2 linked regions of the Homo sapiens genome follow. The protein of the gene in region 1 interacts with the protein of each later gene in a pairwise test. Each region holds a gene or a part of one and is shown on either strand. Other genes may lie near its edges.

The links.
Region 2: the proteins of RAPGEF4 (region 1) and SSB interact in binary tests that used the Homo sapiens proteins (3 or more experiments, as listed by UniProt).

Annotation. Positions count from the first base shown.
Region 1 is NC_000002.12:172,738,736-172,746,036, reverse strand, and holds part of RAPGEF4 (rap guanine nucleotide exchange factor 4), read right to left. Parts: intron 1-7,301.
Region 2 is NC_000002.12:169,808,573-169,812,567, forward strand, and holds the end of SSB (lupus La protein), read left to right. Parts: intron 1-287; coding exon 288-330; intron 331-1,710; coding exon 1,711-1,851; intron 1,852-2,285; coding exon 2,286-2,472; intron 2,473-2,610; coding exon 2,611-2,751; intron 2,752-3,095; coding exon 3,096-3,184; 3' UTR 3,185-3,247; coding exon of another isoform or gene 3,248-3,286; 3' UTR 3,287-3,492; downstream 3,493-3,995. Other genes in the region: rRNA N(6)-adenosine-methyltransferase METTL5, read right to left, coding at 3,248-3,286, 3,885-3,934. UniProt on the Homo sapiens protein: Binds to the 3' poly(U) terminus of nascent RNA polymerase III transcripts, protecting them from exonuclease digestion and facilitating their folding and maturation.

The sequences.
Region 1 (7,301 bases):
AACACAATCCATCTATTTCTAAAATATACTACAATCTTTCCTTGGATTAAATCAGATCACCTGAAAACTGTATATTATATTGGCCCCCTCGCAGAATTACCCTTTCTTAATGTTTCTTTAGAATTATGCTGTATTTAAAGAGCCTGTGAAACTCACTGCTGAATCACTGTTGGAATGTTGTTGAGGATATTGTTCACCACATTGCAAAGTATATTCTTGAGGCTGAGGGAGTCAAGAGGTCCCAGTATCAGCTTGATTAATTGTTCTTCTCCAGCAGAAATAGTTTAAGTTTACAAATACTGAATAAAAAAATACCTGTGCTTCCTTGTGTTGAAAATGAGAAATTGAAGCTGAAATGCTTATATTAGTAAAGAAGAAAGGTTAAAATTAACCAACTAAGTTTCCACTTTAAGAAGCCAGAAAAAGAAGAATAAGTTAAACCCAAAGTAAGGAGAAAAAAGGAAAAAAAAATGAGCAAAAATCAATAAATTTCTCAAAGAAAACAGTAAATCAACTAAAAGTTGTTTCTTTTAAAATATTAACAAAATTGGGAAGCTCCTAGTAAGAATGAATTAAAAAAAAAAGACACAAATTACCAATATGGGATACAAAGGACAGAACAACACTACATATCCTAATGGCATTAAAAGGATTATAAGGAATACTATGAACAACTCTATGTCAATAAATTTGATAACTTAGATGAAATGGACAAACTCCTTGAAATAACTATAAAAACTGACATGAAAAGAAAATCTGAACAGTCCTCTATTACAGTTTGAATTTGTCATTAAAAAGCTTTTCATATAGAAAACTCCTGGCCCAGATGACATCTATAAGACATTTGTAAAATAAATAGCATTGATCTTATATAAGTTCATTTAAAAATAGAGGGAAAAAATAGGAAAAAAGGAAATGTTTCTTAATTCACTTGATTAAGCCAGAATAATCCTGATACTAAAATAAGAAAAGAAAGTTATAGGCTAATATCCCTCATGAATTGACATGAAAGTAGCATTAATGAAATATTAGTAAGTTGAATAAAGTAATATATAAAAAGTATAATGCATGTTGACAAAGTAGTATCTATTCTAGGAAGGCAAGGTTGGCTTAACATTTGAAATTCAGACAATGTAAATTCACTATATTTACAGAATAAAACAGAAAAATAATATAATCATCTCAATAATTTCAGAAAAGGGAATTTGCTAAAAAAAAACAACTACATGAAAGACAACTAATGTGGCAAAATAGCAAACTATTTTTTATAAGATCATAACCAAAACAAGAGCATCCATTCTCACCCCTTCTATTCAATTTTGTCCTGGCATTCCTGGCAAATGCAATAAGGCAAGAAAAATAAATAATAGAAGACATAAAAATCAGAAAGAATAAGTAAAACTACCAGTATTCACATTCAAGATTGTCTACAGGGAAAATCCCAATGAATCTATAAAGTAACTACTAGAACCAAATAACTTGCCCAAAATTACACCATCAATAAAATTAAAACTGGGGTTTGAGCCTATACAGTCTGACTCCTAAATTTTTAACCTCTACACTACATTTTCTCTCTAGAGATGACCACGCAACGTTTGCATTAGCTCACACACCTCAACATAGCCATTACTGTAGGCACTGGGAATCTCATTTGAAGATGTGAAAACAAAGATTCAAAAAGATTAATAACTTGGCCAAGATCACATAGCTAGAGGGTAGAGGTGACAGAATTTGAATCCAGGTCTGGCTGATCCTAAGACAAAGCTGATTTGACTATATCATGTTTTCCAGACTGGAAACAGAAAACGGGGAGATCCAGATGCTAAGGCCCTGAAATAAAAGTGGAATAAAAGTCAAGACAATTAGTGACTGGTTAGATGTGGAAAAGGACATAGGAAAGGGAAAATGCAGATAACTTCAAAGTTCTGAGAATGAGGAAGTCATGACATCATAAATAAAATAGTAAAGCAAGAAGGAGAAACAAATGGGGAGCAGGGCTAAAAAAGATGAGGTCAACTTTAGACAAGTATCAATCTGTTAGGTTAGAGATCATTTTGATGGCAAATGATAGAACACCAAACAAAGAATGCTTTAGAGAAATAGGGCTTTTTTCTTCACAAAACAAAAATCTGAAGGTGGGTAACTACTGATCTGGGTTCAGCAGGTGGACAAAGTCAGAACTGGGGGCTCTGTGTTTCTCTGGGCACTTGCTCCTGGGATTACAAGATGGCTGCCACAGGCCCGGGCCTCGGGTAGTAACTCCAGGCAGAAAGAAGAGAGGAAGGGGAAATCAAATACACGGGTAAAGCAAGAGCTTCCCTGGAAGCCTCCTGTAGACTTCTGCTATGTCTCATTGGCCAGACAGTGCCACATGGACACCTCACCTGAAGGAAGATTGGGAAAATAACTATGTTGTTTTTCTAGCCTCTATAGCAGAGGTAGGTGAAGGAAAACAATGTCTGCCCCACAAAATATTAATGGGATATTCATGTGGGAATATCCAACAGACAAAAATACATCTGGTCTAGAAGATAAGCCACAGATACAGAGTTTAAGGAATCTGAGCAGTTACAGCAAAGGAAACAGATAGTTGCGCCAAGAAAGAGCTGGCATGGAGAGAAAAGAGAGTAGTGGCAGCACTTTGTGTTTCTTCTGGGGCAGGGGAAGCAAGAGGGTGCACACGGATGCAGCTGAGTCAACACACCAGGATTGTCCGCCTCCGCTCGTCAGCCAGATTGTTTTCTGTCAGATGTTCAGCTGGATCTCTCGCTGTCTCCCTCCCCACCCAGTTCTTTCCATCCTCTTTCTCTTTCCTCAGTCTCTCAGTACTCCTAGGGCAGTCTCTCCCTCATCTGTGACGTGAAAGTACTGGAGGAAAAACCCACTCTCATTGACCACTGTTGAGGATGCACAAACGTGATTTTATTCTGACTGAAGAAAAACTAGCTGCATGGGGTGTGAGGAGGTGGTGCAGGACAATAAGCAGCTACGATGAGAGGGCCATAAAATCTTCTAAGCTCATGGGAAATTCCAACAAAAGGTATCTGCCAGTCCCACCTCACAGGAGGGGCCAGAAATCCATTTGAGAGAACTCCAACTAAGACAAAGAGGCTGGATTTGCTTTGCTAAGCACCACTTTTCCTCTGAAGACTCTTTCCAGCTCCCAGGCTGCATGCAGGAGACCAGGCAGCAGGGTCAAGGGTGTGGATTGAGCACACCAATCCTACATGTATCCCCAGTCTGAGGGAGTCCAGGTCTGGCTAAACTTTCCTTTCCTAATAGATTAAAGCAAGTAAAATCAGCACAACAGAATTTAACCCTAATTACATATGAGGTTGTATTGTTCTCAAATTACTCCAAATATATATGTCATGTGCTCCCATGTATTTGAGGCCACAGTGAAATGTCTCCCAATAAATTGCAAATAGATAATTCCCAAGCATTAAACTTTAAAAACAATATATTGCTAACATTATGAAAAGAGATCACTTGACATTATATACCTCATTATGGAAATATATAACACTTCTGTGATGCATTCTTACCAAAAAGTCAAACTCTAGACCCAAATACTAATTTACAGGAAATACAGGGGACAAAGGAACATGTTTTAAAAAACTGCATGGAGGTACAATGAAAATTCAGACTGAAAAAAACAACAACAACCCAGTTTCTTCAAGAAATGTATTACAAGGAAGAAAAAGAGAGAAAGAGAGAACCCAGACCTATAGACATATCAACTAAATGCAACTTATTTGGCTCTTGATACAAACAAACTGCAAAAAAGAAAGTTATGAGGTAAATGGGGACATTTGAACACTGACTGAATAATTGATTATATTAGAGAACTAACGTCAAGTTGTTTAATGTGTGTGGTATTGTTTTCTTTATAAAAAGTCACTACCTTTTAGAGACATATACTAAAATATTTACAGATGAAATACATGGGATTTGCTTGAAAATAATCCTGGGGGGAGTGGGGAGCGCGTGAAGGTATAAACAAAACAAGGTTGGCTGTAAGTTGATGATGTTGGAGCCAGGGAAGGGGTGGCACAGATCATACTGGCTGGGCACAGTGGCTTAAGCCTATAGTCCCAGCACTTTGGGAGGCCAAGGTGGGAAGATCACTTCAGCCCAGCAGTTTGAGACCAGCCTGGGCAACATAGGGAGACTCCATCTCTACAAAAAATTTTTAAAATTAGCCAGGCATGGAGATACACATCTGTGGTCCCAGCTACTCAGGAAGCTGAGGCAGGAGGATCGTTTGAACCCAGGAGGTCAAGGATGCAGTGAGTTGTGATCAAACCACTGCCTTCCAGCCTGGGTGACAGAGTGACCCTGTCTAAAAACACACACACAAACAAAAAGAATTAAGAATCATACTGCTATTTCTTCTTTTTGTATATTTTGATTTTTTCCACAATAAAAAGATGTTAGTTTTTTTTTCAAAGGTGGGTGAGGATTTAAGGAGGAAGAATAGATTAGATTAGAGCTATGCAGTGTCATTTTTAAAAAAGTATTCACATTAGCCAAAAAACATAGAAGAAGCAACAGAGGCAGATGTGGATGGTGTCACCCACGCCCTTCCCCAGCAAAGGGCCCAGTGCAAGGGCCTTTTTGGGTTACAGAGGCCACCATCCCTGAGGAGAAGGATGCCTGTGGCCATCTTGCCCTGGGCCCATTAGCACCTTCTCTAGTCAGGGCACTGCACTGAAGCTGAAGATAAAATGATGAATAAAATATAGGGACTAAAGTCAAGTGATGTGAAAAGAGAAGTAAGCAGGCCATTACAATGGAATCGGACTTGTGCTATGTTATTACAGAGTGGGACCAAAGTGTGCTGTGAGAGCACAGGTAATGGTGATCTGACTGGAAAAGGTGGCAGCCACGCTGTCCTGGACGATTCCCAGAACTGCCTTCTCATTATCATCCAATTCCCAGGCTCTGTTGCTCTAGGAAGAGGATGTACTCCTGTACAGGCCAGAAGATGTAAGCATCCTGACCTCCTGGCAGCTTGGCTTCTCATTGTAAATGCAGAAAACGGACTTCTGAGAATAATTGGATTTCCCATATGGCTTACTTAGAGGAAGAATACATTAGCCAAAGGACGTGAGTGTCCACTTCTCTGATGTGACAGATCTTATTGTCAAATTAATAAACTGTCTTTCTGGCTTTTAGAGTCTCTGAGAGTCTGGTACCTGTGTATCTGTTGCTGAAAGATACATTAATTTTTGATGTGCTAACAAGTCAGTATTCTGAGATTGCAAGACCAGCCTGAGCCCTGGAGGATGTACCGGGGTAATGTCATCCCTTGGGACATGGCTAGTAGATACTAGCCTCCTCCAGGGACCCCTTTCTGCTCTGTGTGCTTCTTTGATCCTCTGCATTTCTCAAGGGTGGACCCATGTCTGATGCTTCTTTGATATCTGAGTTATCTTCTCTCACCATGTGTGCTACAAAGCATTTTGGTTCTTAACAAATTTGTTTCTTGATTTCTTTCACTCGAATTCAACCTAATCAAAATAGCTAAAATAACATCTATTTGGGGGCAAGTCAGATGGAAACTGTCCATGGAGTATTTTTAAACTGAAACACGAATACTTAAAAAAAATTCATCTGCTGCCTTTGAAAGATCACAACCTTTTGAATAACCATGTTAACTTCATCATCTGCTTTGGCTGTGACGGCCAGTGTTCCTCAAATAAGCCAATCAACTGAGAACCTTTCTCCAACCTATACTTCTAATTAAAGAACAAGAAACCAAACACTGTGAACTCCTTTCCAAATGAAAACGATTTCTTTCATCTCCAGTGGTTTCACTGTCAATCACTTAGATAGGTTCTTTCATCTATAACAAAAGATGGCAAACTTTTTCTGTAAAGGTCCACATAGTAAATATTTCAGGCTCTGTGGGCCCACAGTCTCCATTGCAGCTACTCAACTCTGCCACTGCAGCGGGAAAGCAGCTGTAGACAATATGTAACCAAATGAGCATGGCTATGTTCCAATAAAACTTTGTTTATAGACACTGAAATTTGAATTTCATCTAAATTTCATGGGTCACAAAATACTGATCTTCTTTTGATTTATTTCCAACCATTCAGGAATGTGAAAACCATTCTTAGCCCACGAGACATACGGGCAAGCTGTCAGATCTGGCCCACAGGCCATAGCTTGTCAATGCCTGTCCCATCATGATGAATGCCAGCAATGAGTCGCTATACTACATGAATGTGTATGGTCCCTGTCCCTTCATAATACTCCTTTACCAACCCTGAGAACTAGGACTTATAAGTGGATCTGAAGTTCACAGTTGGCAAATTTAAAATCTTACGGGAAAAATATTTTCATTAAAATTAAACAATGGGCCGGGTGTGGTGGCTCACACCTGTATTCCCAGCACTTTGGGAGGCCAAGGCGAGCGGATCAGCTGAGGTCAGGAGTCCAAGACCAGCCTGGCCAACATGGTGAAACCCTGTCTCTATAAAAATACAAAAATTAGGCAGGCATGGTGGTGTGTGCCTGTAATCCCAGCTACTCGGGAGGCTGAGACACGAGAATTACTTGAAACCAGGAGGGGGAGGTTGCAGTGAGTCAAGATCACACCGTTGCACTCCAGCCTGGGTGACAGAGTGAGACTCCATCTCAAAAAACAAAAACAAAAACAAAAAAACTTAAACAATGGTCAGCACACTTAAAAAAAAAAAAGAAAGGACATTTTACCTATCTTAAGTCCCAAATAGTGGGAACTATGTAATTTGTTCCTAGTTGCCATCCCCTCAGAAAAAAATGGTAAGATCCCTGAGATAGTGGTGAGCTTGTTTTACTCTAACAATACATCTGCTGAGACTTTTTTCAATGTTGGTTTATCCATCCAAATGTTCAATGTCCTGTCTTTCTGGTTTTAAGATTAGTATTTGTAGACCCTCATCTCCTCAGTCCCACCATAGTCCAAGATGGTGGATGATTGATACATAAAAAGCTATAGATTTTGTTTCTTTAATCTAATCTACATATCTACAACACTTGCAACACCCTTCCCCACTTGCAAATATTGTCCTGTCTATGATAGCTTTCTAGGCATTCCTAACAAACACTTTAAGGCTCTATTTTCCTTGTGTTTTGTTTCACTTCAAATTTCATTGTATACTTCTTTACTACTGCAGACTTTCTCTTTTAACTCTCTTTTTATTTCCAGTCCCAGGGTTTCTCTTTTTTTCACCATCCACAACAGTTGTCACTTGAATGAGGCATATATTTGAACTGTGTTTCCCAGTTACGTCCTTTTCCCAGTTGAAAGG
Region 2 (3,995 bases), 2.9 Mb from region 1:
CACGACATAATTTGAATTCCTTAAAGCTCTGACAGAAATATAGCTGGTGAGCTCTGAAATAGTGGCAGTAGACCTTTCTCTTTGCTAGTGAAACACTGAGATCTTAAGCTGCCTTGACAATCTCAGGGCCAAATTGCATTGCAGTCTAGCATTGGACGATCAAAAAAACCTAAGGACTTCTGGCTTTGGTTAAGTAAGTTTAGTGATCATGATTGGTTAACTTTATTAGGACTTAATTTTCTTATATAGTAAATAGAAGTATGTTATAATTATATTTTTATTTGTAGGGAGCAAGAAGCAAAACAAAAGTTAGAAGAAGATGCTGAAATGGTAAGTATATATTACTGCTATCTAGTACATCTGTAATTCGAAGTTAAATGAATAGCTTTTAAGTCTGAGGACTTTTTCAAGAAAATACGTAAGCAAAGCTATCTATAGTTGTTATTGCATTAAGTAATACATCAGGTATTATATTGAGGGAAAAGAGAAAACTAAGGATAGGAAATATGTTCTAAAATATGGAAAAGGCCGGGTGCAGTGGCCCACGCCTGTAATCCCAGCACTTTGGAAGGCCGAGGCGGGCAGATCAGTTGAGGCACGGAGTTCGAGACCAGCCTGGCCAATATGGTGAAACCCCATCTTGACTAAAAATACAAAAATTAGCCAGGCGTGGTGGTGCATGCCTGTAATCCCAGCTATGTGGGAGGCTGAGGCAGGAGAATCACTTGAACCCAGGAGGCGGAGGTTGCAGTGAACCAAGATCATGCCACTGCAGTCCAGCCTGGGTGACAGAGTGAGACCCTGTTTAAAAATAAAAAATATAATAAAACACAGGAAAATATATTTTGAAATATTCAGAAAAAGTTCATTTATGCCTAGAACTTATTTTTATGAGAAAATGTCCTATAACTTCTAAAGATTCTAATCATAGGTTAATACTAACATGACTTTTATTTTTGACTTAATAAGATACTGATGTGTATTTCCATTTAGAAAGTTACAGGTAAAAATTTTTATTTGGGGAAAATAATGACTATAAAATTTTTTTTTTTCTTTTTTTGAGACCGAGTCTCACTGTTGCCCAGGCTGGAGTGCAGTGGCGCGATCTCGGCTCACTGCAAGCTCCACCTCCCAGATTCATGCCATTCTTCTGCCTCAGCCTCCCGAGTAGCTGGGACTACAGGCGCCTGCCACCACGTCCGGCTAATTTTTTGTATTTTTTTTTAGCAGAGACGGGGTTTCACCATGTTAGCCAGGATGCTCTCGATCTCTTGACCTGGTGATCCGCCTGCCTCGGCCTCCCAAAGTGCTGGGATTACAGGTGTCAGCCACTGCGCCCGGCCTAAAAATTTTTTAAAGTATGATAAATACTGCCTAGAATTATTTTCCAAGATAGTTTAATAGCCAGATTTATGTAGTTTATAACTAATTAAATACCAGTTGTATAAGAGATCAAATAATATTGAAAGCCATTTTGGAATAAAGGATGACAAAGGAAAACACCAACACTATGAAACTACTTTATTTATTTATTATTATTATTATTTTTTGAGATGGAGTTTCGCTCTTGCTGCCCCGGCGGAAGAAACTACTTTAAAATAGCATTTTGGTTTCTAGTCTTTTTCTTGTATAGCTATAAGGTGGTGTGAGTCATTTCTGGTCTGTTGTTGCTTTTAAGAAACTTTTTGATCACTTTGTATATTTTTATAGAAATCTCTAGAAGAAAAGATTGGATGCTTGCTGAAATTTTCGGGTGATTTAGATGATCAGACCTGTAGAGAAGATTTACACATACTTTTCTCAAATCATGGTGAAATAAAATGGATAGACTTCGTCAGAGGAGCAAAAGAGGTTTGGATACATCCCTATCCTTTTTAGCAATCAGTTTGAAAATCTGTAGAAACTTAGACAAAATTAGTAGAAAGTAATTTTAAAAATTGTGTTTATTAAATTAGTTTCTACTTGATCATTTGTTATTGCCACTAGATGTGATGTCTGATATTTTCTGAATTATACTAAATTAGTTTCTACTTGATCATTTACTTTGTTGTTATTGTCACTATATGTGATGTCTGATAGTTTCTGAATTATACTATGAATAACTGTTCATACTGATGATTGCAGTTTTACTTCTGTAGCATTCCTTTTCTACTGTTCAGTAAAATTCATTCAAACTGGTAAAGACATGGAAGGTTTGCAGGGTAGAAAAAATTACTTTGGACAAAGAAATTAATTGTGGGACTAAAAACCAAGGGTATGGCTTTTGTTTTCTGTCTCTGGTATAGGGGATAATTCTATTTAAAGAAAAAGCCAAGGAAGCATTGGGTAAAGCCAAAGATGCAAATAATGGTAACCTACAATTAAGGAACAAAGAAGTGACTTGGGAAGTACTAGAAGGAGAGGTGGAAAAAGAAGCACTGAAGAAAATAATAGAAGACCAACAAGAATCCCTAAACAAATGGAAGTCAAAAGGTCATTTATTCTGATTTTTCTTTAACAGTTTGGTTGTTGAACCCATTTACTTGAGCAAAAACTTTAATCAGTGTTCAAAAACATTGACAAGAGACTTAAAAAAAGTTCTTTACAGAGTGCTCAATTGTGTCTCTACAGGTCGTAGATTTAAAGGAAAAGGAAAGGGTAATAAAGCTGCCCAGCCTGGGTCTGGTAAAGGAAAAGTACAGTTTCAGGGCAAGAAAACGAAATTTGCTAGTGATGATGAACATGATGAACATGATGAAAATGGTGCAACTGGTAAGTTTTTTTTAAGTCCTTTGGTAGTTTCATGAGAAAATTTCTACTTCCATAAATAAATGATTTGCCAGAGAGAATAGGGATTTGGCTTTTCAACTCCTGGATAAGTGCCATTCTTGGATTATTAACGATTTACCTCGGTTATGCTGTTGTATAAGTCAGGGACAGGATATTTGGAAGATGAATCTAGAGGTCAGGTCTGTACTAAGAGAAAAGCCTTTTCTCATTGGTGCAAGGAAGTTGTTGCATCTTTTTCAACAGTATCATTATTAGTAATTGTGCTCAGTATTAAACTAGAGCAGTACTTACGTTGAATTTAACAAAAATTAATTGTTACGTTATAGGACCTGTGAAAAGAGCAAGAGAAGAAACAGACAAAGAAGAACCTGCATCCAAACAACAGAAAACAGAAAATGGTGCTGGAGACCAGTAGTTTAGTAAACCAATTTTTTATTCATTTTAAATAGGTTTTAAACGACTTTTGTTTGCGGGGCTTTTAAAAGGAAAACCGAATTAGGTCCACTTCAATGTCCACCTGTGAGAAAGGAAAAATTTTTTTGTTGTTTAACTTGTCTTTTTGTTATGCAAATGAGATTTCTTTGAATGTATTGTTCTGTTTGTGTTATTTCAGATGATTCAAATATCAAAAGGAAGATTCTTCCATTAAATTGCCTTTGTAATATGAGAATGTATTAGTACAAACTAACTAATAAAATATATACTATATGAAAAGAGCAAAAACAGTTTTTGATTTTTTTTTTCTTTTTGTACCCAAAGCATTTAGGAAAGAACTAGAATATTAGCTATTGACGATGGGCCTTTCCCACAGGCCATTTATGGTGTCTCCTAGGCTGGCTTTGTATATTTACACAGGAAAGTTGGTAACACTAGAAATAATTACTTGTCACAAAGCTTTCCTTTTTTTTTCTTTTTCGAGACTGAGTCTCACTCTTATCGCGCAGGCTGGAGTTCAGTGGGGCAATCTCAGCTCACTGCAACCTCTGCCTCCTGAGTTCAAGCGATTCTCTTGCCTCAGCCTCCCGAGTAGCTGGGATTACAGGCATGAACCACCACATCCGGCCCAGAAAGCTTTTCAATACCGAATGTAGACCAGCCAAAATCAAGAGACTTACTGATTTCTTTTTGTGAAACTTGTATGATGCTGGCAGGTCATATCGAAGTTCTGTAAAACAAAAGCCACCTAAGGATAAAATTGTATTTCCAAGCGTTTACCACCCTTGACT